4 linked regions of the Homo sapiens genome follow. The protein of the gene in region 1 interacts with the protein of each later gene in a pairwise test. Each region holds a gene or a part of one and is shown in the gene's direction. Other genes may lie near its edges.

The links.
Region 2: the proteins of MAGEA2B (region 1) and ANKRD45 interact in binary tests that used the Homo sapiens proteins (3 or more experiments, as listed by UniProt).
Region 3: the proteins of MAGEA2B (region 1) and TNIP3 interact in binary tests that used the Homo sapiens proteins (3 or more experiments, as listed by UniProt).
Region 4: the proteins of MAGEA2B (region 1) and NEK7 interact in binary tests that used the Homo sapiens proteins (3 or more experiments, as listed by UniProt).

What each region holds. Positions count from the first base shown.
Region 1 is NC_000023.11:152,710,319-152,717,627, forward strand, and holds the start of MAGEA2B (melanoma-associated antigen 2), read left to right. Parts: upstream 1-4,309; 5' UTR 4,310-4,364; intron 4,365-4,528; exon of another isoform or gene 4,529-4,610; intron 4,611-4,760; 5' UTR 4,761-4,839; intron 4,840-5,638; 5' UTR 5,639-5,758; intron 5,759-6,329; exon of another isoform or gene 6,330-6,427; intron 6,428-6,577; 5' UTR 6,578-6,643; intron 6,644-6,723; 5' UTR 6,724-6,788; coding exon 6,789-7,309. UniProt on the Homo sapiens protein: Reduces p53/TP53 transactivation function through recruitment of HDAC3 to p53/TP53 transcription sites. Also represses p73/TP73 activity. Proposed to enhance ubiquitin ligase activity of RING-type zinc finger-containing E3 ubiquitin-protein ligases.
Region 2 is NC_000001.11:173,666,832-173,674,515, reverse strand, and holds the start of ANKRD45 (ankyrin repeat domain-containing protein 45), read left to right. Parts: upstream 1-4,664; 5' UTR 4,665-4,699; exon of another isoform or gene 4,700-5,445; intron 5,446-6,108; exon of another isoform or gene 6,109-6,392; intron 6,393-7,684. UniProt on the Homo sapiens protein: May play a role during cell division.
Region 3 is NC_000004.12:121,154,311-121,161,335, reverse strand, and holds part of TNIP3 (TNFAIP3-interacting protein 3), read left to right. Parts: intron 1-119; coding exon 120-200; intron 201-2,583; coding exon 2,584-2,649; intron 2,650-4,092; coding exon 4,093-4,242; intron 4,243-6,656; coding exon 6,657-6,785; intron 6,786-7,025. UniProt on the Homo sapiens protein: Binds to zinc finger protein TNFAIP3 and inhibits NF-kappa-B activation induced by tumor necrosis factor, Toll-like receptor 4 (TLR4), interleukin-1 and 12-O-tetradecanoylphorbol-13-acetate.
Region 4 is NC_000001.11:198,257,995-198,265,019, forward strand, and holds part of NEK7 (serine/threonine-protein kinase Nek7), read left to right. Parts: intron 1-4,580; coding exon 4,581-4,643; intron 4,644-6,130; coding exon 6,131-6,241; intron 6,242-7,025. UniProt on the Homo sapiens protein: Protein kinase which plays an important role in mitotic cell cycle progression. Required for microtubule nucleation activity of the centrosome, robust mitotic spindle formation and cytokinesis.

The sequences.
Region 1 (7,309 bases):
CTCTACAATATATGCGAATTCTTAAAGCTCAATGATAGAAAAAATGAAAATAGTCAAAGATCTGAACACACACTACACAAAAGAAGATATACACATGGCAAATAAGCATAATAAAAGTACTGAGCACCCTTTGGCATTAGATAATTGTGTACTAAAATGGGATACCACTGCACACCTATCAGAATGTCCAAAATCCATAGAAAACCAAAACAAAGAATACAAGACCAAGAACAATTGCCAGCGAAGATGTGGAGCAACGGAAACTCTCCTTCATTGCTGGTAGAAATGCAAAATGGCACAGCCACTTTGGAAGGCAGTTTGGCGTTTTCTTAAAAAAATGAAAATAGACTTAGCACAAGATTCAGCAGCCATACTCAATCAATTTACCCAATTGATTTGAAAACTTATGTCTACATAAAAATTTGTATATGAATGTATACAATAGCTTATTTCATAATCACCAAAAATAGAAGCATCCAAAATGTATTTCATTTGGTGAATGGATATATATATATATATATATATATATATATATATATATATATAACCAGACATTGATACTACTCCTCAATGAAAAGGAATAAGTTCCAAGCCACACAAAGTTATACATGACTCTTCAGTTCATTATGCTAAGTGAAAGAAACCAGTCTAAAAAGGCTACATAGTATAAGATTCTATTTATATGACATTCTGGAAAATGCAAAATTATAAAGATGAAAAACCTATCAGTGGTGGCCATGGGGTTTATCCGACAAGCACAAGGGAATTTATCAGGGCAGTGAAACTGGTATGCATAATACTGCAATGGTGGTTCCGTGCTTGCTTTGGTCTGAATATTTGTGTTGCCACAAAATTCATCTGCTGAATTACCAAGGTGATGGTATTAGGCAGAAGGTGGGGTATTTGGAGAATGACTAGATCATGAGAGCAGAGTCCTCATGAATGGGATTAGTGTTTTTATAAAACAGACTCCACGGAGATCCCTTATCCCTTCTTGCATGTGAGGATCTAGGGAAAAGGCAGCTGTCTATGAACTAGGGAGCAGGACTCCACCAGACATGAAATCTGCCAGCACCTTGATCTTGGACTTCCCAACCTCCAGAATGTGAGAAATAAAGTTGCGTTGTCTATAAGCCACCCAGTCTATCACTATTTTTGTTATGGAAGCCCAAACGGACTAAGACAATGGCACGAGGCATTTGTCAAAACCCATAGATCTTTACAGCACAAAGAGTGAAGCTTAATGTATGTAAAGTTTAAAAGTAACTTAAGAGGTTGGAGAATCACGGGACGGCAGGTAGAATGTTCCACACACACACACACACACACACACACCTAGTTGTATAATAGATATATGAAACCACCACAATGAAGCAAGTGGGGGGAAAAGTTAACACATTTTGTACTCCATCAAAGAAATATATATTTTATAAAGTTTAAGTTGGCCAGATAAGTGTGTAACATAGTTGAACATTTGATAATCATTTATTTAATTTTTTAGATATGAAAACTATCGGCTTTTTGTTTTAAAAAAATCCTTATCTTTTAAAAATGCATATTAAGTTATTTAGAGATGAAATGGTCTAATGCCTTAGATTTACTCCACGTTATTCCAGCAGCTCATATGCAGGTAGGCGAGTGTTTAACTGGAACCAGATTTGCTGTGTATTTAAAGATGTTCATGCTCGGTATCAAGTATCCTGGGTTCATTATATTCGTTCCTGTTATTCTGTATGTGTGAAGGCTTTCCCTAATAAAACTTTTTTATCATAAATATGCCATTAAAAGTGAAATCCTAAATGAAACTGACCACTTTGTAGAAATAAAATAAATCAGTAACCAAACTGATCCAAAGAGGAAAAGAAAACTTTAACTATACAACAGAAACTGTACAATATTCAAAGCTCAAGCCACCCTCAAACATTCCAGGTTAGACAGCTTTGGAGGCCAATTTTACCAAATGATCAGGGAAAACTAACCACCGCCTTATATCAACTCTTCCAGAACATACAAAAGACTGACAATTGTTCAGTTCATTCTCCCAGGCTAGCCCTCCTGGATTTAAAAACCAGATGAGGACCACATACCTCCCCTGATGGAAAAAGAACACATCAAGTAAGCTCTCTTACACAGCAGTAAATATCCTACATAAATTAGTAGTACATTAAACGAATAAACAGGCTCTGCCCAAGGAAATAAAATATGATTTAACATTAGAAAAAACATCTGTTTCATTGTGATTCCTTACATACAAAATGGAAGAGAAAAAAATTTGATCCTGCCAACGGGTACAGAAAAAGCTTTTTAAATAAATTTAATATGAATTCATGGTAAAAAAGAAAATATTTAGGCAACCTATACTGAAAGAGAACTTCCATTTCCTAAAATCAACAGCAAACATACTTAAATGTCAAATGTTCGAAGAATTATCATTCAAGTCAGGAACGAGAAGTAGATGTAGCCTATTATCTCTACATTTGAAATCAGGATTGAGACACAAAGAGCTGTAAGTACCGAAATGAGTGAGTGGTATGAACATTGGAAAAACATGTAGTGTTTAGTGATAATACCATTATCGATCTTGAAAATTCAAAGGAAAAGGTATGCGGAATATTCAAGTGCATCGGCCTTCAGAACGAGGTATGCAACAGATTACTACAGCAAAATCAAAATCTTCACCTCACGAAAGCAATAACTAACTACAACAATTGATAGACAATATGCCACTTGCAATAGCAACAAAATCCAAGAATTACCTGAATAGAAGCCTAATAAAAATGTATAAGTTGTTTATAGAGGCAACTACCGAAGTATACTGACATATTCAGGAAAAAAGAGCTTGAAATCCATAGAGGAGTATAACATATTCATTCACGGGGAACACAACAGTGTAAAAATGTAAACTCAGCTTAAATTATTTACAATTTAGTGCCTTACCTGTAGCCGCCGACATTACAAGCAAATTTGGGCTGCTGTGCTCTGCTTCCCAAATCAACCCTGTAAATTTATAGAATGGAAACAGAAAGTAAAACACCAGTATCAGCAAGAAAATCTACACAACAAAACAGGGAAAGCCCAGAGTGAGACTGGAGACTGTGTTGAGCTGGTACTTGTGTGTGACACTTGCAGTGTCTGTTGGAGGGGGTTAGCGGCAGAGATGTTGGGGAGGTTTGTAGCCTGCCTAGACGGCAGATGAAAGAATGGGTAGAATAAAAGTTTTGAATTTTCCACTTCACTTCATTGCACAATCTGAGGCAGCCCCTGAAAACACGATGCCAAGAGCCCTAGGTAATAGCAGTGTCCACCAGGAAAATTGGGTTTGTTAAGGCAGCATGGCTCCAGAGTTCTGCTAATAACAACCTGAAACCAACAGAGTGGGAGAGGAATTATGTTTTTTAAAAAAATTCTTTCAACAGAACACAAAGACTGGAATGGAAGTAGACTAGGATATCAGAGTGAATCATGCATACTAAGGGTAGGTGTTAGTTCATAGAAATAAATATATATATTGCTACCTACATATATACTTAGAAGATATGTAAACCGTATTTCTTCAATTCAGAGAATAAATCATTTAGGACCAAAGGTTTGCCAAGTGTAGCTCTGGCTGGGGAGGAGCCCCCGTGGGAAGGTGTGCGTCTTCTCCCAGAGGTCACTATCATCGCGGGAGCTCCTGCCCTGCAGGGAGCACCTGGCCTGGCACCCGCAGCCATTCTCTACAAGGGGTGCAGATGCGCAGATGCGCAGATGCTCAGAGGTGACAGAAACAGAGCATCTCCCACCCATTCCTTCATCAAACAGCCAGGAGTGAGGAAGAGGACCCTCCTGAGTGAGGACTGAGGATCCACCCTCACCCACATAGTGGGACCACAGAATCCAGCTCAGCCCCTCTTGTCAGCCCTGGTACACACTGGCAATGATCTCACCCCGAGCACACCCCTCCCCCCAATGCCACTTCGGGCCGACTCAGAGTCAGAGACTTGGTCTGAGGGGAGCAAACACAATCGGCAGAGGATGGCGGTCCAGGCTCAGTCTGGCATCCAAGTCAGGACCTTGAGGGATGACCAAAGGCCCCTCCCACCCCCAACTCCCCCGACCCCACCAGGATCTACAGCCTCAGGATCCCCGTCCCAATCCCTACCCCTACACCAACACCATCTTCATGCTTACCCCCACCCCCCCATCCAGATCCCCATCCGGGCAGAATCCGGTTCCACCCTTGCCGTGAACCCAGGGAAGTCACGGGCCCGGATGTGACGCCACTGACTTGCGCATTGGAGGTCAGAGGACAGCGAGATTCTCGCCCTGAGCAACGGCCTGACGTCGGCGGAGGGAAGCAGGCGCAGGCTCCGTGAGGAGGCAAGGTAAGACGCCGAGGGAGGACTGAGGCGGGCCTCACCCCAGACAGAGGGCCCCCAATAATCCAGCGCTGCCTCTGCTGCCGGGCCTGGACCACCCTGCAGGGGAAGACTTCTCAGGCTGAGTCGCCACCACCTCACCCCGCCACCCCCCGCCGCTTTAACCGCAGGGAACTCTGGCGTAAGAGCTTTGTGTGACCAGGGCAGGGCTGGTTAGAAGTGCTCAGGGCCCAGACTCAGCCAGGAATCAAGGTCAGGACCCCAAGAGGGGACTGAGGGCAACCCACCCCCTACCCTCACTACCAATCCCATCCCCCAACACCAACCCCACCCCCATCCCTCAAACACCAACCCCACCCCCAAACCCCATTCCCATCTCCTCCCCCACCACCATCCTGGCAGAATCCGGGCTTTGCCCCTGCAATCAACCCACGGAAGCTCCGGGAATGGCGGCCAAGCACGCGGATCCTGACGTTCACATGTACGGCTAAGGGAGGGAAGGGGTTGGGTCTCGTGAGTATGGCCTTTGGGATGCAGAGGAAGGGCCCAGGCCCTCCTGGAAGACAGTGGAGTCCTTAGGGGACCCAGCATGCCAGGACAGGGGGCCCACTGTACCCCTGTCTCAAACTGAGCCACCTTTTCATTCAGCCGCGGGAATCCTAGGGATGCAGACCCACTTCAGCAGGGGGTTGGGGCCCAGCCCTGCGAGGAGTCAAGGGGAGGAAGAAGAGGGAGGACTGAGGGGACCTTGGAGTCCAGATCAGTGGCAACCTTGGGCTGGGGGATCCTGGGCACAGTGGCCGAATGTGCCCCGTGCTCATTGCACCTTCAGGGTGACAGAGAGTTGAGGGCTGTGGTCTGAGGGCTGGGACTTCAGGTCAGCAGAGGGAGGAATCCCAGGATCTGCCGGACCCAAGGTGTGCCCCCTTCATGAGGACTGGGGATACCCCCGGCCCAGAAAGAAGGGATGCCACAGAGTCTGGCCGTCCCTTGTTCTTAGCTCTGGGGGAACCTGATCAGGGATGGCCCTAAGTGACAATCTCATTTGTACCACAGGCAGGAGGTTGGGGAACCCTCAGGGAGATAAGGTGTTGGTGTAAAGAGGAGCTGTCTGCTCATTTCAGGGGGTTGGGGGTTGAGAAAGGGCAGTCCCTGGCAGGAGTAAAGATGAGTAACCCACAGGAGGCCATCATAACGTTCACCCTAGAACCAAAGGGGTCAGCCCTGGACAACGCACGTGGGGGTAACAGGATGTGGCCCCTCCTCACTTCTGTTTCCAGATCTCAGGGAGTTGATGACCTTGTTTTCAGAAGGTGACTCAGGTCAACACAGGGGCCCCCATCTGGTCGACAGATGCAGTGGTTCTAGGATCTGCCAAGCATCCAGGTGGAGAGCCTGAGGTAGGATTGAGGGTACTCCTGGGCCAGAATGCAGACAGGGGGCCCCATAGAAATCTGCCCTGCCCCTGCGGTTACTTCAGAGACCCTGGGCAGGGCTGTCAGCTGAAGTCCCTCCATTATCCTGGGATCTTTGATGTCAGGGAAGGGGAGGCCTTGGTCTGAAGGGGCTGGAGTCAGGTCAGTAGAGGGAGGGTCTCAGGCCCTGCCAGGAGTGGACGTGAGGACCAAGCGGACTCGTCACCCAGGACACCTGGACTCCAATGAATTTGGACATCTCTCGTTGTCCTTCGCGGGAGGACCTGGTCACGTATGGCCAGATGTGGGTCCCCTCATCTCCTTCTGTACCATATCAGGGATGTGAGTTCTTGACATGAGAGATTCTCAAGCCAGCAAAAGGGTGGGATTAGGCCCTACAAGGAGAAAGGTGAGGGCCCTGAGTGAGCACAGAGGGGACCCTCCACCCAAGTAGAGTGGGGACCTCACGGAGTCTGGCCAACCCTGCTGAGACTTCTGGGAATCCGTGGCTGTGCTTGCAGTCTGCACACTGAAGGCCCGTGCATTCCTCTCCCAGGAATCAGGAGCTCCAGGAACCAGGCAGTGAGGCCTTGGTCTGAGTCAGTGTCCTCAGGTCACAGAGCAGAGGGGACGCAGACAGTGCCAACACTGAAGGTTTGCCTGGAATGCACACCAAGGGCCCCACCCGCCCAGAACAAATGGGACTCCAGAGGGCCTGGCCTCACCCTCCCTATTCTCAGTCCTGCAGCCTGAGCATGTGCTGGCCGGCTGTACCCTGAGGTGCCCTCCCACTTCCTCCTTCAGGTTCTGAGGGGGACAGGCTGACAAGTAGGACCCGAGGCACTGGAGGAGCATTGAAGGAGAAGATCTGTAAGTAAGCCTTTGTCAGAGCCTCCAAGGTTCAGTTCAGTTCTCACCTAAGGCCTCACACACGCTCCTTCTCTCCCCAGGCCTGTGGGTCTTCATTGCCCAGCTCCTGCCCGCACTCCTGCCTGCTGCCCTGACCAGAGTCATCATGCCTCTTGAGCAGAGGAGTCAGCACTGCAAGCCTGAAGAAGGCCTTGAGGCCCGAGGAGAGGCCCTGGGCCTGGTGGGTGCGCAGGCTCCTGCTACTGAGGAGCAGCAGACCGCTTCTTCCTCTTCTACTCTAGTGGAAGTTACCCTGGGGGAGGTGCCTGCTGCCGACTCACCGAGTCCTCCCCACAGTCCTCAGGGAGCCTCCAGCTTCTCGACTACCATCAACTACACTCTTTGGAGACAATCCGATGAGGGCTCCAGCAACCAAGAAGAGGAGGGGCCAAGAATGTTTCCCGACCTGGAGTCCGAGTTCCAAGCAGCAATCAGTAGGAAGATGGTTGAGTTGGTTCATTTTCTGCTCCTCAAGTATCGAGCCAGGGAGCCGGTCACAAAGGCAGAAATGCTGGAGAGTGTCCTCAGAAATTGCCAGGACTTCTTTCCCGTGATCTTCAGCAAAGCCTCCGAGTACTTGCAGCTGGTCTTTGGCATCGAGGTGGTGGAAGTGGTCCCCATCAGCCA
Region 2 (7,684 bases), on another chromosome or scaffold:
TGGGGACTGCTCTAACCACCTTGGGCACATGTTATCAGGACCTCCTGAGGCTGTGTCATGGGCGTGCATCCTCAACTTTGGCAAAATAAACTTTCCAAATCAACTGATACCTGTCTCAGATTTTTGAGGTTCACAAAAGCATGGTGAATGTGGAAAAAAAAAAAGCCAAAAATATCCCCATCCCAAAAGAACCATGAAGGTGGGCCGAGTGCAGTGGCTCGTGCCTGTAATCCCAGCCCTTTGGGAGGCTGAGGCAGGAGGATCACTTAAGGCTAAGAGTTGGAAACCAGCCTGGGCAACATGGCAAAACCCTGTCTCTACAAAAAATACAAAAAAAAATTAGCTGGGCATGGTGGTGGGTGCCTGTAGTCCCAGCTATTTGGGAGGCTGAGGTGGCAGGATCACCTAAGCCTGGGGAGAATGAGGCTACAGTGGGCCGTGATCACACCACTGCACTCCAGCCTGGGTGACAGAGTAAGATGCTATATCTAGAAAAAGAAAAGAAAGGTTCCCTCACAGAAAATGGGAGTTCACTAACCAGAAAAGGAGGGACCAGCAGGTGAAAACCATGGGTGTTCACTATTTCATTCTCCTCAACTGTAGAGATTAGCTACATGGAGAAATAATTCTTTAGTTACACACCAGGGGAGTGGCTTTAATATTATCTAATTATTGCCAGAAAGACTCAAGGCAAATTATTTTGAAATAAAGTTGTTATTTTTGGCAGATTTTCTCTAATATTTAATTAGCATATAGCTAACAAGTAGCAGTCCTCTGGTGTTTTAAACCAGACTGACCTAGGTACAAATCCTGGTTTGGCCCTATTAGCTGTGTGGTCTTAGGTAGGTGACTCAACCTTCTGAAGTGTCGGTTTCAAGAATAATATCACTTTCTTATAGCAACTTATAGAGTTGCTATAAGGATTAGAGATAATTTATATGAATCACTTAACACAGTACTCAGCATATAATAGGCTTTCAAACAACAAGATGTAGCACATTAAGTTACCTTGGAGTAAATTTTTCAACTAGTTGATCCAGGTTTTTCATCAGAAATTGACATTGTACAACGGACATGACTCAGTCTATGAAGTATAGAAATATGGCAGGGTGTGGTGGTTCATGCCTGTAATCCTAGCACTTTGGGAAGCCAAGGCGGGTGGATCACCTGATATCATGAGTTCGAGACCAGCCTGCCCAACATGGTGTAACCCCATCTCTACTAAAAAATTACAAAAATTAGCAAGGCGTGGTGATGTGTGCCTGTAATCCCAGCTACTTGGGAGGCTGAGGCCGGAGAATCACTTGAACCCAAGAGGCGGAGGTTGCAGTGAGCCGAGATGACACCACTGCACTCCAGCCTGGGTGACAGAAGAAGACTCCATCTCAAAAAAAAAAAAAAAAAGTATAGAAATGTAGTTTTTTATACAATAATTTCTATTCTGAGGGCCTATTCTCTTATGTTGGAAAAAACTAGTTTCAATAGTTTTGGAAACCTCTCACCTACCATAATTTTCTGGAGGGGATCTAATTTCTGGGGGGTTTGAATAGTGCTTAATCATTTGCTGCTTAAGCTGTCTGTTCACCAGGCCTTCACTGTCTTATCTGGACCTCCATCATTAATACCCACAGGTTATTGCTGAGATGTGTCTTACACATGGGCACTCGGCCCCTTCAAATCCAGTGGCTCTTTCCAATACTCTCAGGTCAAGCTTGCAGGGGGTGTGGCTAAGAGAGGGTGTCATGGGAGTCTTTCTGCTGCATCTAGGCCACACTCTTGCCATGAATCTCCTGTCTGTTTCTAACCTGGTCTGCCTAGGTGCATCACGCAGCTGTTTCTGACCTGGAGTTCAAGTGGAGCTCACGGCATCTTTGCTTTTAGGTCTCAAACCTATTGTGTCTTACTACCTTTCTAATATTAGCATTCAGAGCACTAAAAAATAATCTTTAAAAGTTCTATTTAATTTTTAGTTGTTTAATTCCACTTCAGACATTCAAGAAACAGTTCTATTTGGGAATTCTTCATATCCCCTGAAGATTAATGAAAAACAGAATCATGTACAGTTTTGTACAGTTATGCATCATAAGTCATCTTCCATCCAGATATTAAAAAACAAAGACTATGAAAAATAGCATGTTAAAACTGAAATGCCTAAAATTAGCCTTGCTCTTCATCACCTTCAGTAAGAAATGATTGTTGAGTAGAGCAAATGTGTTGTATAGTGACTGCAGGAGCAAGCTTCCAACTGACAGATTATTGTTCCTCTCTATAATGTAAAACTCTAAAATTTTGATTACCACAACTTATTTGAACATGAAAAATTAATAATTACATTTGAAAAAATTCAAATTTATTCTTGTATTTCAAAAGTTCAGATTTATGATGGTGTTACTGGTGGTGAATCTGTATGGGTCTGCAGCCGCCTTAATTCTTGCCTCAGAAGAAAGAATCTGAGGGGCATTAGGCAGAAGAAGAGACCGAGGCAAGTTTTAGAGCAGGAGTGTAAGTTTATTAAAAAGCTTTTGGGCAGGAATGAAAGGAAGTAATGTACACTTGGAAAGGGCCAAGTGGGTGACTTTGAGAGATCAAGTCCAGTTTGACTTTTGACTTAGGGTTTCTTTTTTTTTTTTTTTTGAGACGGAGTCTTGCTCTGTCACCCATGCTGGAGGGCAGTGGTGCGATCTCGGCTCACTGTAACCTCCGCCTCCCGGGTTTACGTGATTCTCCTGCCTCATCCTCCCAAGGAGCTGGGACTACAGGCGCATACCACCACGCCTGGCTAATTTTTTTTTTTTTTTTGGTATTTTTTAGTAGAGACGGGGTTTCACTGTGTTAGCCAGGATGGTCTTGGTCTCCTGACTTCATGATCCGCCCGCCTTGGCCTCCCAAAATGCTGGGATTACAGGCATGAGCCACCGTGCCCGGCCTTAGGGTTTTATATGGTGGCATACTTCTAGGGTCTTGCGTCCCTTCTCCCCTGATTCTTCTCTTGGGATGGGCTATCCACATGTGCAGTGGCCTGCTAGCACTTGGGAGAGGAGCACGTGCAGTGTGTTTACTGCAGTTCTATGCATGACACTTGAGGCATTCTTCTCTTACCAATTGAATGTACCCAAGAAGGTCATATACCAGTTAAACTCCACCATTTTGACTCTTAATGTGTATCCTTGAGCCCACTCACCTGTAAGAAGTACTTTTTAAGTGGTCCATTTTTCAGAAAACAGGCCCCGGCAAATCCAGGCAGCTCCCTTGCAGATGTGACAAGCCGCATGCTACAGACATCTGGGAAGAGTGATAAGACTCACAGAAGTCAGAGGGGAGGGAGAAAAAAAAATAGGGGGTGGGGTGGCTAATCCATAAAAGGAAAGAAAGTTTTGTCATTGGGAAATCAAAACTTAAAGTGGGGAAGGAGACAAGATGTAACCTTATAAGGGGATAATGAAACTTAGGCAACGTTGGGGAAGACTGTAACCCCATAGTACTCAGCCTATGAGGAACCAGGGTAGGGACTTGCACACTAGGTGATAAATTCCTTGTTGAAACTGCACTGGGTGTTCCTGCTCACCAGACACCCGATCTTGCAAGACCGTTATTAAAAAGTGTCTCTTTTGCTGTTCTTCATGCCTCTAAGTCCATTCTTTGGGTTTGGACAGGTGAGTGTGTTTCTCACATCACCTAACTCCTGAGCTCTTATGGGGAAGCTGCTGATAACCAGTTTCAGATGTTTTCTATCTATTCGGAGAGTGCCTTTTCCTGGCATTGGCTGCAACCAATTATTATTTTAGAGAGACAGTTAACAACTGCCTATCACCTGATGGTCGCCTGACATTCCTGGTGGGGGATAGGGGAGCCTGCTCTGCTCATGCCTGACTACCTACTGTAACAATGGTGAAATTTTGCTTGGGCCTTAGGTCAAATATTCATTTCAGAACTAGGCTATTCGAACTTCAGCACAGATGTTCAGAGCCCCTCTAAAACATTCACTTACTCCTTAGTGGACTCTTGGTAGAAACAGTAAAGAAATGAATATTTTCCTTCACACCTGCCTTCAGCACAAAAACTTCCCTGTTTTCACTGTGTGATTCATGTGAACATTGATATAATTGCTAGGTATGCCTGGCCCTTCCCTGCTGGTTTCTTTCGAACCCCTTGTCCCTCCACCTCCATCGCTTCCCCCCTTTTAAAGTTGTGTTTTGCATCTTGAATTTCTGAATCAAGAGGGATATAGTCTCCAAGTTTCTTCTGCTCCTAAGGTAGTTGGCACTTGTGAGGTCGCCTGAAACACTCCTTGCTGGTGACAATGACCATAAACCATGGGAGAAAGATATCCAATAACTAGAAAATTAAGCAAGGGGTTATTCATACAATCTTTTGTAGTTTTTAGAATGCAACCTCATATTTCCAGAAAATTCTTTCGTTTAAAAGCCAAAGACAGGCCAACAACCAATATGCACAACTTATTTTTAAACTGTAAAACAAATACCTTATTACAGAAAATTTACAAAACAAAGAAAAAACCGACACGCCACCCAGAGACTGAAATTATAGATAATTCCTGGCTGTTTTCCACTCTGGCTTCCTGCGCCTTTGCAACCAAGAATAACCTTCCCGCGCTGCCGGAACCGCGGCGCAGGAGGAGGCGCTGCCTCGCGTGTTGCGCCGTTGCTATGGTAACCGAGGAGGCCGGGGCCCGGGTGTGGTGAGTCTAGGGGTCCTGGCGCTGTGGGCCGGGGTGGGCACTTGGGGAGGAGTGCGATGGGGTAGACGGACATCTTCCCTCCAGGCTGCTCGGGCAGGGCTGGAGGGGAGTGGGCTTCAATCTCAGCGTCCTCACACTGCTTCTGTCCAGAGCTTTGCGCACCGGTCTCCTACCCCGCCGGCAGCCGCAAGGGATCGCAGAAGGTCCCTAGGGAATTCAGGCCGAAGAGCAAACTCTGGTGCCCTGAAGTGTCCGTTGCCCCCTCGCGGGACCTCCTGGATCACCTGGCGGCGCTGCCACTTTCTGTATCCTGTTCCTCAGGCCTTCTCTTTGTTTAACTCTGTGTGCCCAGGGTTGCCCTTGGGGTCCTTCTCCTTGAGCTGGGACTTGATTAAGCGACTACTTTTTTTTTTTTTTTGAAGAAAAAAATCAGTTGGCTTAAAAGGCACATTAGGATCTACTCCTCTATCACAACTTCAGGCTGCGTCGCCTGCCTCCTTGCCCTTTGTTTATGCTCTTCCCGTTACCTGGATTGTCCTTTTTTCCTCCTTTTAAGACTCCTACTCTTCACTATCGAGGTTTCACCTCTTCTGGGAAAACTTTCTGAGACCGCCACCCAGAATTGAATGTAGATGTCCACGGTTTTACTTTCAAAGCACTCTACCTACCTCCATTGAATCCCTGATCTCACTCTGTCATTGCTGATTTACTTGTGTCTTCCCTACCAAAATGTGAGAGCCTATGGGGTAGGTGCTATGACCTATGTGATTTTCTATTGTGGGTGGCTCGAAAGCAATCACATTCTATAGTTAAAAAGAAAAGTTTATAGATTTTTCTACACTTATTTAGTAAGGCAGACCAGGTGCTATCCTCATTTCAGAAAAGTCACATAATTAGTAACAGAATCAAGACTAAAGCAATGCCATTCTGCCTTCATAGTTCCAGCCTTCCCTCTTCCCTCCAATGCTCATATTCTCTGTGAAACTTCAGTTATATGTAGCAAGGTTACAATTTTGATGTATGTTATTACTTTTGTGGGCAAAGAAAATGTAATTTATTTTTGTATATGACTGATCTGGTTCCTTTCATGAGCATTTACTTATTGATTATTAGGAAAGAATCTAAATGTCCGATTGGTTTTAAAGTTTAGCTCAATCTAGAATTGATTTCTTTGGCTAGTGTTTAATTTCTCTTATATACAAATATTTAGGTTATCAGGTATCTTCTTGGATTCTTTCCTTGAGATGGTGCCCTGGCTATGTGGATGGCTCACGGAATCAGTTATGGGGACGGGTCAGGGTCCCTTTGCCTTCCCTTGGCTCTGGGGGGTGATGTTCCTGGTATACCGAGTGCTCCCTGCCCTATGGCTTTCTTGGTTTTAACCTTTGGCTTATATACCTTGTGAACAGGTATCTCCTGGTTTTGTCAGGACTCGGTTGAGCTCCCTGGCTCACTCAATTGCGCTGAGTTCCTGCTGTGACTTCCCTTCAGCCCTGACTGGAGTGGTTTGCACCACAGCCCTCCCTCCCTGCAAAGCCTCCTTGCCCTGCTATAGCAATTGAGTAGGGCAAGCATCCTGCAAGACTTTCCTATTTCTAGGTCTCATGTATATCCTAAGGCAGTGCTCTCAAACTTTGTTGTCTCAGGACTCCATTTTACTCTTAAGAAATGATCCCGAAGAGCTTTCCTTTATGTGAGTTATGTCTTTTAATATAGTATTACATATGTTGTAAGAATTAGAAATTAAACTGAGGATTTAAAAAATGTTTATTAATTCCTTAAAAAATAAATTCACATGTAACATAATTATATATTTCTCATAAAAATATTTTCCAGAACAAAAGAATTAGTTAGAAAGTGGCATTATTTTACATTTCTGCAAATGTCTTTAATTTCTGGCTTAATGGGAGACAGATTCTTATGTCTGCTTCTGCAGTCTATCCGTTGCAATATGTTGTTTTGAAATATGTAAAGAAAATTCCTCCTTACATAGATATATAGTTGGAAAAGGGAAGAGTATTTTAATAGCTTTTTCAGATAATTGTGCACATTTTTGTGACTGCACCAAAACTCTGCAAGTGGTAGTTTCTTTTTCTTTCTTTTTTTTTTTAAGATGGGGTCTCATTCTGTTGTGCCAGGCTGGAGTGCAGTGGGGTGATCTTAGCTCACTGCAACCTCTGCCTCCTGGGTTCCAGTGATTCTCCTGCCTCAGCCTCCTGAGTGGCTGGGACTACAGGCGCCTGCCACTATGCCCGACTAATTTTTTTGTGTGTTTTTAGTAGAGACGGGGTTTCACCATATTGGCCAGGCTGGTCTTGAACTCCTGACCTTGTGATCCGCCCACCTCAGCCTCCCAGTATGCTGTGATTACAGGTGTGAGCCACTGCTCCTGGCCACAAGTGGTAGTTTCTTAAAGGCTGGTTGCAGTGTGGAATCTGAAGCCATGTCAATGAACGTTTCATACTGTGTTACATTAAAATCTATTGATCTGTCTTATACTTTGGATCTTTTACCCATGCTTGATATTGTAACATAATGGAAAATGGCAGGGGGAGTGAAGCTGATTTTGTAAAGAAGAAAAGCAGTCATTCAAATCAAGCAAAATGTTGCTTCATTTAGTTATACCAGTTTTCCAAATGTTAACATGTTTCATGCTGTAATATTTTTAAAAGCCCACTTTCATTAATATCATCTCTGATCTCATCATAAAAGTATTGGGAAGTCGTTGGCCAACACATGGCCAGTATGAGTTTTCTAAAATGCAAATTGCAGCTGGGCACGGTGGCTCACACTTGTAATCTCAGCATTTTGGGAGGCTGAGGTGGGAGGATCACTTGAGGTTGAGACCAGCATGGGCAACATAGCCAGACCCCCTGTCTCTACAGAAAAATTAAAAAATTAGCCTGGTGTGATGGCACACATCTATAGTCACAGCTACTCAGAAGGCTGAGTTGGGAGGATTGCTTGAGCCCAGGAGTTCAGGCT
Region 3 (7,025 bases), on another chromosome or scaffold:
GGTATTTTTTAAATCGCAACAGGAGAGTTGGCCAAATGCATGGGGTTTCTGAGGAACAGTACTTCTGTTTATTTTGTAAACAGCTTTGTTTCAATCTTCTCTCTTTTTTTTTTTCTAAGTGTGCTGAACCATCAACAAGAAAGAACTTGATGAATTCTCTTGAACAAAAGATAAGGTGTTTGGAAAAACAAAGAAAAGAGGTAACTTAGAAATATTCGCTAAAGCCACAGGTGCCATGGATTAATGCTGAGGATAAAATAATGTATTATCCTTGTGCCTTTTATTTTTGTTATCAGGTCACAGTATTTATCTTTAAGATACTGGACTGCACTATTTTGAAAGCAAACGCCTTCTTTCTTATTCACCTGTATGTTTCATACTTGTTGTCTCAGTGTCTGTGCAGTGACGAATGAAAAACGACAAAGTCATAAGTCTGGTAATATAATCCTAATTTTCTCAAAACTTAGATGTTTCCTCCACACAGACCAAGTTACTTTATCCTTTATGCCTTTATCGTTTGTGCCTTATGACCTTTACCCTTTATGCCTTGCAACTTGACACACCTTGAAACTCAAGGTTTCTTGAGTTACTTGAAAAGTCTTTAAGTATAGTTGATTTAGGTGCTATGACTTCATGAACTGGGCATCCAAACACATGGGAGTTAAAAAGCATTATCATAAATAAAGTTTGTTTCTAAAATGTTCCTGGGAATTAATGGGTATTATTTGGAATTTTATTTTTCTGAGCTTAATGAATGTTAGAACCTCTTTACTCTTCTTGACAGAGGAAGTAGTGAAAAGTATAACAATTTTAGCACTCTGTATATTGTCAATTTTGTAATTCCTTCTTTTTTTTTTTTGAGACAGTGTTGCTCTGTCACCCAGGCTGGAGTGCAGTGGCACGATCTCAGCTCACTGCAGCCTCTGCCTCCAGGGTTCAAGTGATTCTTGTGCCTCAGCCTCCCAAGTAGCTGGGATTACAGGCGTGCACGACCATGCCCAGCTAATATTTGTATCTTTAGTAGAGATGGGGTTTCGCCATTTTGGCCAGCCTGGTCTAGAACTCCTATCCTCAAGTGATCTGCCCACCTCAGCCTCCCAAAGTGCTGGAATTACAGGAGTTAGCCACCGTGCCCAGCCTGTAATTCCTTTTCTAATTCATTCTGTGTACTACATCTTTCATGTTCTCTTGCATGGTGCCTTCTACTCTTCTTTGATACTTGAAGAATATTGTGACCTTCTGGAAAATTATTGAACGATGGCAGAGTAATGTTACTATAGTATACACATGGGAATCCCTAAAATGCCAACAGAGTAACTCTCAATATAATAATATTATACAGTTTCATACTAAATAATGATATGTATTTTCAGCATAAGAGTTACCTAGTAACTGCCACTCTGGATTCAGTAGTTTGCTTTTTAATTAGGAGAAAGTTTTGCTACTTTTTAGTCATTATGACTGTCTTCTCAGTGTCTGTTCCCTATAGATAAGCGTTGGAATTTCTCTTAATGCAGAAAACTACAAACTTCCCCAACAAAAAGCCAACCACATATCATAGCACTTCTTCTGCCTTCTAATTAGCAGATAGTCTTAAGATCTTTAAATTATTTGTAGCCTAAAATGCATCTAAATATTGTCCTATGACGAAACTATAATTTCTTGAAAATCTAAATTTTCAAAATGGTGATATTACCTATTTGTTGAGTATTTATTATAAATCATGTGTTAATCTTTTAAAACACATTATTGCAAGAAAATCGTGATCAGTTAATGGAGCCTAGGCTTTGTTAGCATAAATTCTGCTTTAAAAGAGCTGGAAAAAATATTTCATTATAATCAGTGTAAGCACAAAGAAAAATACGAAAAAGTTTGGGAAAAGAACCTCCATGCATTAAGAAATCTTACAGACAATCATCAATACTTACAAATTTTTATCAGATTGTGGTTGGATTAAACAAAGAAAATGAAAATCCAAATAACTAAAAAAAGTTAAAAGTTACTGATAAACTGTTCAGCTGACTTGTCAAGATATACCTGAGACTTACTGGTTTTTCTTTTCTTTTCTTTTCTTTTTTTTCTTTTCTTTCCATGAGATGGAGTCTCACTCTGTCGCCCAGGATGGAGTGCAGTGGCACAATCTCGGCTCACTGCAACCTCCACCTCCTGGGTTCAAGTGATTCTCCTGCCTCAGCCTCCCCAGTAGCTGGGACTGCAGGTGCATGCCACCACGTCCGGCTAAGTTTTGTATTTTTAGTAGAGACGGGATGTCACCATGTTGGGCAGGCTGGTCACCAACTCTTGACCTCAAGTGATCCCACCTGCCATGGCCTCCCAGAGTGGTGGGATTACAGGCGTGAGCCACCGGACCCAGCCAGTAGTTTTTCATATACGAACCAGTTATAAACAGTGAGAGTGTGTTCAATTTAATCATCCCAGCACAATCAGAACTTGATGGAAAAAAATATTGTCTTCATCCATGGCTTCTAAAACCTTAATAAGCTCAGAAAGTAATTTCTTTTTGACCAAACTTCCAAATGGGCAGAAATTCTTTGTTGATTCACCAAATTTTAATGATTTCAGCTCCTGGAAGTTAACCAGCAATGGGATCAGCAATTTAGAAGTATGAAAGAGTTATATGAAAGAAAGGTAAATACCTCTCTCTATTCGGTATTTTCTTTAAAGCCATTATCCTGGTGGGGCCAATTGTGTGAAGAGTCTCATTCATTTCAGCTACAAAGAGCTTTGTGGATAGCCAACTGTTGGAAAATGACGGGAAGGGTGCTAAGTGTAGTATTGGTCTCATGGCACTGAAAATTAATGAACGGTGTCAGTGAGTTGTCTTGAGCAATAGCTAAAGAAAGGTGCAAAAATGGCCCCCAGTGATGTCTCAAGAGTTCTTGTGCACATTTATCGTGGCTCACAGAGTATCCCAGCCTTACCTTTGTCACTAGAAGCCACAAATACACAAAGTTATATGTGAGGTGAGATATGGTTTAAAGTCCATACTGTTTACGCCAGGTTAGCCCTAATTCTTTAATTAGATAGCATGACCTATTTTCCACAAATAGAGAAACAAATGGTGGTAACAGTGAAAATGTGAGTAAAAATGGAGCAACCTCCTCTTCCATCTAAAGCATATTTGCTCTCAAGAAGCTCTGGTGAGAAAGGGGCTTTTGGAAGAAAACCTCCTTTAATACATAAAAGACAATTTATAATTTAAAATTATTCTATTTTCAAAAAGAGATAAAAAGAGCAAGTACTTTCCCCTAAATAATTCAGTATTAAGAAACTTGACCATGAGTATTGTAATATAGCAGCATTTTTCCTTTCTTCCTCATTTTGTTACCCAGAAGTATTGAATTTAGAAGGTGCAGGATAATGTTCCTGCTGCACCAGGCAATGGTCAGGCAGCCTTGCAATATCCCTGCTGGGGCAATCCGGATCTGTAAATGTTAAAGATGATGATCCCAGAGAGAATGCTTAAGCTGCTTTCTCGAACGGCTTGCAGGTGTGTGAAGACAGTGTTAGTGATGGCTATAATCTCCATCTTGGAAGATGCATCCATCTCTAAGATTCTCCCTCTGGACTGTGGCCACTCTGAGGACCTGTCACTCTGTCATCAGAGTGATTTGGCACCTAGTAGGAGGTCAAGTGCTGCAAATTACTGATAAATTAAAGGCCATGTCTGTTTTTCTCTGGTGTAGGCATATGCTACTTAACCTGCTGCCCCTCATTGCCCTTTCCAGACCAGGCTAGGCTCACCTGGAGAGTTGAGAATAGAATGACAAACCTACAGATTCCCCTGGGTGGGGTCTAAGTCTTTTATCCCCTCTGAAGTAGGGGTGGTTTGGAGAAAAGAAGGAAGAGCTGGGTGGTTTGGAGAAAAGAAGGCTGTTTTGGTGCAAGGCCAAGCTCCCTTTGAAACGCGAGTATCCCGATCTGTGTTCGGGACGGTGGGAGCTAGAACCTCTCCTTAGGGGACGTCCTGGGGTGGGGCGTTTCTGCCAAAGTTCATAGCCTGGGAATAAATCCAGGGGCTTGTGAGCTTCAGAGAAGGTATCTGCAGCTGTCTTTGAACGACCTCCTCAGGTAGCAGAGCTGAAGACGAAACTGGACGCCGCGGAAAGATTCCTCAGCACGCGGGAGAAGGATCCGCATCAGAGGCAGAGAAAGGACGACAGGCAGAGAGAGGACGACAGGCAGCGCGACCTGACCCGGGACCGGCTGCAGCGGGAGGAGGTGGGCGGGGCCCGGGTCCTCGAGCCCGGAGGATCCAAATAAAAGCAAAGGGGCGGGGGGATTTCCTGTAGAAAACCTACCGTTTTATTAAAATCAACTCACTACTGAGCAACGACCGATGTGCAAGGGTGCATGGGTTACGCAAGTCCCCAAGAGCCATGAACAAGGGTCACTTCTCTAGAATAAGAAGGAAGGAGATTCTCTGCCGGCTTCCTCCTGGTTTGCATAAATAGGCAGACAGTCATTCCCCAGTCCCTTCCAGGAAGAAGAAAACGGATCCATAAATTTGCTAACTCTCTAGGGCATTTCAGCCTAGGAGAAATTTTTTTTTCTTTTGCTTTTATTCGTATTTATTATTTTTATTAGTAGTGTTCATAATAATAATATGGCAATACCTTGTATTTGTGCAGTAGCTTTTCAAGCTTACAGAGAGATTTATATATGAGGTCTTACTTCTGTCACCATAAATTTATGACATTTTTTAAAGCCTTCGTCCTCATTATCTCATTTAACATTCTTGGCCCACCTGTGAGCAAAATATTATTTTTGCTATATTAAAAATGAGAAAGCTGAGATGTAAACAAATTGAATTGCCCACGTTGATGAAAAAGGACTTGAACCCAACCTCCAGATTCTAAAGCTCTATCAGTCCCTTGCTGAGAACTGGATGGTGACAATTGAGATGACAGCTTTTCCTGAAGAACACTTTTTCTTCCTGGTTTTACTTTCAATTATTGGACTTCATGAATATTGTAGAAAATGGGAGGAAACCTTAAACTCTAATGGCCCCTCGTTATTTTAGGTATAGTAAGAAAAAACAAAGTGTAAAGACTCTGAGGGGAAATCTTATCACTGATATCGTGAGGCAATGGCAATATTTTAAAACATGTACAAATCTTAAGGCAATGTCTGAAATTCGCGCAGACAATGCCAGTCCAGGTTTTCCTATCTTGCTGAGGATGTCTTTGTCACAGTGAGTCAGGAAAACAGAGTTTAGCAACACTCCCTTTCTGCCATGTAGCAGTCATTTCCTTTTCCAATTACACTCTAGCCAGGAATCTGAGTAATTTTTCCCTCAATGCAGTTGGGACCATTATCTTATTGGAATAATTTTCTCTTAAATTATGCTAAATTAGAAAATAATTGGCTTATTTTCTAAGTGTATATGTTCATTCTATTTAAATAAAAGCAAATAGAAATATTTTCCCTTTTAAAGAAAATGAATTACCTAAAGCGGATTTCTTAAATTTAATAATCATATTGGGAAATATTAGTTACTCAAATAACACACTTTAACACATATATTAGCTATTTTTGCATGTCAAGTTACCTATTTTCTGCAATATTTATTTTACTGGGTTAAAATCTCAATCTCATTAAGAATCCAATTTACTTCACAAAATGTTTGCTATCTATTATACAAAATTAAGAGGTAGGAGATATTGTCTGAATCCAGAGCCTGTTGATGTTTACGCAGCTAACCTTCAGTTGTTTAAAACACTGCACTTCTGGATGACAATTTTAGATTGTCATCTAAAATTGGAGGAGTGGTGGCAGTTGGACTAGTTGATTTCTACCTTTTAAAAATAATAATCACAACAATAGAGTGCTCTAAATAATGATCTGTAATGAAAGGTCTTATTGGCCTAAGGATTATTCTCTTTTCCCTCTTTCTAATACAGAATGATGCAGGAATGAGCTTTGAGATATTTAGTATTGTTTTCTCACAATGAGAGTTTTTTCTTTTTAAGACTTTCAGCTATTTTTCTTAATCACTTATCCATCACCTAGTGACAGTATATAAGGACTTGCTTATCCTGCAGACCCATTTGTCTGATAATTGAAAGTAAGAATTGGGAATCCAGCACTTTGGGAGGCTGAGACGGGCAGATCACGAGGTCAGGAGTTTGAGACCAGCCTGGCCAACATAGTGAAACCCCATCTCTACTAAAAAATATAAAAAATTAGCCGGGCGTGGTGGCAGGCACCTATAATCCCAGCTACTAGGGAGGCTGAGGCAGGAGAATTGCTTGAACCTGGGAGGCGGAGGTTGCAGTGAGCTGAGATCACACCATTGCACTCCAGGCCGGGAGACAGTGTGAGAATTCGTCTTTAAAAAAAAAAAAAAGAATTGGGAATTTTGATTTTTTTTTTCCTGGGGTCACAAAATTTCTAAGATACTTCAGTAAATTCTGATAAAAGAAAGATTCCTTCAATCCTAATTCTAGTGTGCATCCAAAGAATATTGCTCAAATGGAACATTAAGTTTAAAGTCTTGCAGGTCCTGTTTTTATTGTATTTCAGAAGGGTGACCCCTCAATCTGCCTGCCATGGCTGATATATCAGAATTCCTACAATATCATCTCATTTGACTTGTACTGACTTTTATTTTCTTTTCTTGGTCTTAACTTCAGAAGGAAAAGGAACGCCTAAATGAAGAATTACATGAATTGAAAGAAGAGAATAAACTTTTAAAGGGAAAAAATACTCTTGCGAACAAGGAAAAGGAACATTACGAATGTGAAATAAAACGCCTCAATAAGGTATCAGTCAGGTCAAGCATGGGAGATTAAAATGAGAAGTCCCTGCATAAAACATTCTTACTGACAGTCGCAACAAAATCTAGGCTGCAGTGTGGGTCCCAGCCTTGGAGGCTTGCACAAGAAATTATCTGTGATTTTATAAATCACTCCTAGCTGCAGCTTTCAGTCATACTTGGCTAAGGAGGCTTTAGAGAATTTTTGTCCCTACAAAGATTCATCATGAGAAAGAGAAATGAGGAG
Region 4 (7,025 bases), on another chromosome or scaffold:
AAAGGAAATGACCATGCTGTGGTATTAGAGACAAACTAGAGGAGGAGAGCATTTTAGATAGAGTGTGCAGCAAAGGCCTCTCCGAGGATGTGAAATTTAAGCGTAGGTGGAGGATAAGGAGTCAGTCATCTGAAGGGTAGTGACAGGAAGGTTCCAGCTGTAGAGCCGGGCACGGTGACTCAACGCCTGTAATCCCAGCATTTTGGGAGGCTGAGGCGGGCAGATGACGAAGTCAAGAGATCAAGACCATCCTGGCCAACATGGTGAAACCCTGTCTCTACTAAAAATACAAAAATTAGCTGGGTGTGGTGGCACACGCCTGTAGTCCCAGCTACCTGGGAGGCTGAGGCAGGAGAATCGCTTGAACCCGGGAGGTGGAGGTTACAGTGAGCCAAGATCACGCCACTGCACTCCAGCCTGGAGACAAAGCAAGACTCTCTCAAAAAAGAAAAACAACAACAACAAAAACTTGCTTAGTATATATTTTTAAGTACTTTGTTTTCTGCATTTTAAATGGTCTTTCTTCTAACAATTTGACATATGCCTTTTTAAGGGGATATTTCTGTTAAGTTACTAGAAGGATTTCATTTCCTTTTAAAGAAATCTAGTGTTAACCTTTTCAGTTTCATTAGCTATGAGTAATTTTGGCAAAATTTTAAGATGACAAAAGAAAACCTTTAAAATGATTCAGAGAATACCAAGAATTTATCAGTCATTACTTGCCTAACCACAGCTCATCCCTTGCTCTTACCAAGTATAAAATGAGTTTAAAAACCTGAAGAAACTTTGGTGGAGCTGAATGAAAATGATGCCTCCTAAAGACTTGTTTGTACATATTATATGCAAGATATTCTTACAAAGTCCATATTTTCACCCAAGACATACTGCTTTTTCTTGCTCATGAAATCATCGGACAGCTTTGAATCTGTGTTTGGGAATGATGTAATCTAAATATTCATTATTATTTATTTTTGTCTTGACTTGTTGGCTGAGAGAAAAAGAAAGATAAGATACTTCTGAATTTCCAGTTAAATGTATTTGTAAATGTATTTTGCTCAGAATTTAGTTTTGCTTTAGATGTGCCATCAATGCTTATTTCTCCCTGTGTTTGAGGAGTGACTTTTGATATTATTGAAAATTCAGTTAAAAATAAAAGTCAATTTGTAATTCTAAATTAATTTTTATAACTTGAATTAAAGATTTTCTATGTAGCATGTTTCTATCTTGATATGTTGTATCTTGTTATGGTTTCCTAAAACTCTTATACATCTATTATTCATTCTTATCTCACTCACCCTCTTTTGTTTTTAAAAATGTTGTTCCACATCATAGAGACATTGATTACTGAGAGATTAAATACATATATGTCTCCAAGTTTGTGATTTTCTTCATTTTAATTACTGGTACTATATGGGCATTATTCTTTCTCTGCCTCCTAAAACAAACAAACAAAAATACCAGGAATTACATCAAGATCTGATATACTTACAATTTTGTGCTTTCCAGTATATCTTTGATTTATCTCAAATTCCTTGTAAATAGCATTTCCTGAGAATGGCATCAGCATTTATGATGTGTCAAGAATCAGTTATTTCTCATGCCATTTTGATTTAAAGTGCAAGTAGTCTGTGTGTGTGTGTTTCATACCTATAACTAATATCAAGTTCAAATTTTTCTGTTTCCATTAGTGTTTGTTTTATTGTTTAACATGTTGATATAATAATCCCTTTGGGGGAATGAATGGCATTTCTATGTGAAATTGCTAAATGTAAAGCTTATTCCTTCAGTTCAAGAACTTTCGATTTTACACACACACTCACACACACACACACATATATATTTTCCTGAAGGGCATTACGCATTCCTGCTTATATAAATCAGTTATTGAGAGCCCTTCCAGCCAGCCATGCTCACCCCCATTAAGGTTCTTACATCACTTTGAACAAGTAGCACTTACAAGTTGCGTGTTAATTTTCTGTGTTGCAGTCTGCATTCTGCATCTGACACTGTGCATCTTAAAGGACTGCAAGATGGTTTTCTTATTTGTATCTGTAATAAAATCTGATAGTAAGATGGCATTCAGCATGGATTTTTATATGTAGAAAGGGTGGGCATTAACAGTTTAAGCTTGTCTGTACTCAGGATCAGGTTATTCATATTAATAATTTGTGTGTAGAGTTAAAACTATGATGCTCTTGGAGAAAATTTCTGCAAGGTTTTTCCTTCCTTCCATAAATAGTGTCATATGGTTTGTTCTTTAATACTGGTAATTTTTTTAACCCCTGCTATTGGTGTCCATTTATATCTAGCTCATTTTGTCAAAGCTTAATGTATACAACAGCTTAATGTTAGCTAAAACATATCTTACTAGATAGTTTATGTGAACTTTGTGATAGTGATTTGCCACTCATAGTCCTTTCCTTTTTTTTTTTTAACCCCTTTTCCTTTCCTTGCTGTTGTTTCATCGTGTTGCATTCTGTTCCATTCTGAAATCATGGTAGTTAACATGAGTTTACTGTGGCTGACATGGTTAGAATTACTGCTAATGGAAAAAAGAGAAGTTAACTCTCTTTAATATATGTACCGGCATACATATTTCTTCTTCTGTTATTTGATTAAGTGGGAGAAACTTTGATGTAATCTAGTCTGTCTCTTTTTGTAAACCATCAAGTAAGGTAAGGCTTTATATTTTTTCAAATCTTAAACTGCAGTGCTCAATATTTTACATTAAAAGTTGCAGAACGTAAATTTGATACTTGAAGTTTTCATTAGAAGTAGTAGAACCAAAATAATGTTAGTGAAAAAGCATATATATCATTTTATATACTGCTATTTTCACTATGCAAAAAGCACATGCGTTTGTACAAGAAATAGAAGGGACTGAGCCAAAGCTAAAATTCTTTAAGGCAGTGAGTTTATGGATTTTATTTTTGCTTTATAATCTTATCTAATATCTTCATATGGTTTTTTAAATTAAGACAAATTAGAACTTTGTGTATCTTTGGATATTAAGAATGATATCTAGAAAAAGTTGCCTCTTATAAGCTGTAATTTTACACCCTTATTCCATATTTACTTTTATGCAGTAGATATCTTTTGTTTCTGACTGGCAGAATCCTATAATTCTTTCAAGGTTCACCTCTAATGGTACCCGCCACCCTACATGGAAGGAATTTCTTCCTTAGGTTTCTAATACTACACTTTGTACACACATATATTTTAATACTTATTAGCTAGTTGTGTATGCATTAGACTTTGTGACAGCCTGGCTCATTGAGAAAACACTGACTATGGAGCTAGAACAACCTGGCTTCAAGTCCTGATTCTGTCCTTTACTAGTTTTATGATCATAAGCATATTATTTAATCTTTTTGAGCCTCAATCCTCATCTTGTTATTGTGGCCAATACTACCTGTCTTATAAGATTGCAATGAAGTTTAAAGCATCATGTGTAAAGAGGCCAGCCCTCTCTGGTAGTGTCTAATAACTACTTCTTTAATTAAAAAGACTTGGATTCTGCCACTCCTTTGACATTGTACCTTCTTTTCCTGGAATGTTAGCTGGCTGAATCAGGAAGACTTGATCAAGCTGATTACTAAAAATGTCATTAATTTTTTTATTTGTTATGTAACTAGGGTTTTAATCAGCTTGCAGTACTGACTTAGATTTTTTTTGCAGTCTCTAAGATATTGCTTTTTTAAATGTTATTTTCCACACACTTAGAACCTTGAGAGATTTGTGTTTTCAGAGACACATGAAATATCTTTTTGATTGTATTTTTTATTTTTATGTTTTTAACAGTAGGTTAATATTTTTCAACCTTTTCTTCATTATCCTCCCCCCAAGCTGCCTGTTTAGACATTTCTTCCTAATTACCTCTACCCATGAAATTTTAATTCCACAAATACAGTATATCTGTTTATGTGTAGTACTGTATGTGTATCTATACTTTATACTTAATAGAGTAAAATTTTGTTACCCTTCTCCACAAAGAACCAATTTTCACCCCCTTGGAATGATATCACCCTTGTCAAGAATGCATGCATCAGACCTTTTAGACATGATTTGATGGAACAGATTAATGGTTCAGTGCTTGGGTTCTAGATGGATAACTCTGAGAATGAATTCTGCTTGCTCTGTTGATTAGCTGTGTGACCTTTTGTCATTCTCCTTAGCTTTCTAAAGCTTCTCTTCTTCATCTGTAAAATGGGAATACTACTATTATCATCCTCATAAGGTTGTGCAGTACATTTAGCATATATTAATTGCTCAACATATATTAGCTATTACTTTATCATCTTAATAATCACAACTTTAATTTTGTTCATTGGAACTTAAGACCTGAGTGTTAAGGGGTATCTACCTGTTCTCTTTATCCATTTTTTAAATACTGACTGCTGAAAATGTAAGCAATGTTGGTAACATAAGATACCTACAGAACTCCTTAATAAAGAAAAGCTAATCAGAAAGAAAATTCCTTAGTGTACAAATAATTACATGTAGAGTATTAAAATGAATTTACACAATAGCTTGAACCATAGGTTATTATTTTATTAAGTAATTCTGGGTTCTGTTTTTAGATATTTGATTTAATGGATGCCAAAGCACGTGCTGATTGCATCAAAGAAATAGATCTTCTTAAGGTAATTAATGAACTGTTGACTCTTTTGAACATAACATGGTGATAAAAGTGATTTACTAAAATATCACACTTAAACACAAAAAGGTTTTTAAGACTTATGCTACACTGATTTCAAGTAATATTATATAAGGTTAAATTTCAGTATACTGAAGAATGTAGTTATTTTTTGGATTTATTGTTAAATAACATAATCAGAACATTTGTAGGACCAGCTTTTTTTTCTCATTTCAAAGTAGGAAATAGATAAAATGGGCATAAAACATTGAAGAATTTTTTTTTCTTGACCACCCCAACAAGACATATTCTAAAGGTTAAGTAATATAAATGCAAATTAGCATTATCTCAACATGTATTATATTGAGAATGTGGACTAATCAAAATGGTTCACATGCATTTTCTAATGTTTCAATACTTTTTCCAGACTTAGACAGAGTGCATGTAAAGAGTATGCCAGGAATTAGCTTTTTAGTTTCTCATCTACTAAGAATATGACTGAGATTTCAGTTATTTCTGCACTGCTTCTTTTATAGTGAAGTTTCTTTTGAGAAATACTGCGGCCTATGTTGTATTTTTAACTTTTAGTTAAGACTTCGCTCTTTTTTTATGCCATCCGTTTGTGTTAGTGCCTAAAATGAACCAGATTTATGCAAAAAGGAAGAAAGTAAGGTCAAAACAATGTTTTCTGACTATTCTGTTAGTTGTAGTTATTTCTTGGCACATGAAGTAGCTGGCTTAAATATATGTAAACTTTTACTGTGGAAATAGCATGTCATCATAGAAAATTTGCAGCGAAAACTTTAAGTAGAAAGAAGAAAGTCACCCATACTTTCTGCATAATTTCTCAGAGAAACAATTCATCTTGTATTAATATGTTTAAAGATTGAACAAAAGGATTGCAAATGAGTAGGGACTGATACGTATATTTCTACAAGGTAAAATTTTTCTTAGGGATGATTTTATGAATTGGCTCACATGAATAAGTCCTGTATGTTATTTGATATAAAAGCAATAGTTAGATATAGTATAGTAGGTACCAGCTGTGTTTTGTCTACTAGCTGGAGTTATTCTAGGACCAACCATAACTTCCAAGTAGGAGTAAAAAGGGATACTTTATTTATCATTGAGTGTTCCTAAATGAAAGTTCTCATTTTGAGGATGTAATTTTTAGCAGTTGGCGACCTAATTCTATCATTTACTTCTTGCATCTGTTGATATGCTTATTGGGCATAGCAGTACTTTTAAATTAAGATTTAAACGTAAAATATATTCTTTCTAATAAAGAATATTAAGATAAATTAATTTATACCTAGTTTTACTTTTAATAATTGTAATATTTGTTTCACAATTCACTAAAGAAAAGTATACTGTCATGTTAAGATTTCTGTAATTTAAAAAATACGGTGAAGTTTGTTCTTAAGTACAAAACTATAAGTGACTCTTGGATATTTACAGTAAGAAAACTTTCTGATGCCTGTTTTATTTTCTCAGCAACTCAACCATCCAAATGTAATAAAATATTATGCATCATTCATTGAAGATAATGAACTAAACATAGTTTTGGAACTAGCAGATGCTGGCGACCTATCCAGAATGATCAAGGTAAGTTTTGAAAAAATTGTCTTAATGTTTTGTTTTGTTTTTTTTTCTAATAGAATTGTCTGTTAAACACATAGGGATATTAGATATTTTAAACTAAAGACCTCAATGCAAAGCTTATCTGATAGATATGTAACAAATAGTAGATGGTTAGTGATCATAATTCTGAAACTGGTTTACTTGGTGATGTTTACACTGATCAGCTTAAATATCTAAACACCCCAAAACCAACTTGGAAAGAGGCCAAGATACTTGTCTTCTGTAAGTTGAGTTAAAGTTTTGCTGTTTGATTCTCTGAGCAGACCATGCTTGATCCTGTGTCTCTGGACATGAGTAAAAGGAGGTAGAAAGAGACTCTAGAGCAGCTTGACCTGTTTCTTGGGGGGGAATCCATCAAAGAAAGTGGGATTTGCAGTCAGACCTTGGATATCAACCCCACATAAAAGTTGTTTAACCTTCTTTTCTAAGGGCATATTAATTCATAATTAATATAATTAAGTTGTTTAACCTTCTTTTCTAAGGGCATATTAATTGGGTTTAAGTTCAGCTGCAATTAATAGAAACCCTTAAATAATAGTAGCTTAAAAACTGTTTGTCCTTGGGCCAGTTACTTCTCTGTGTCACATTTTCTAAAAAACACAGTAATAATAGAACCTACTTTATAGGATTGTTGTAATGATTGAATTAATTAGTATTTATTAAGAGCTTAGAAGAATGCCTCACACATTGTAAGGCTATGTAAATGTATCTGCTGCTGCTATTATTATTGTTATTGTTATTATTTCTC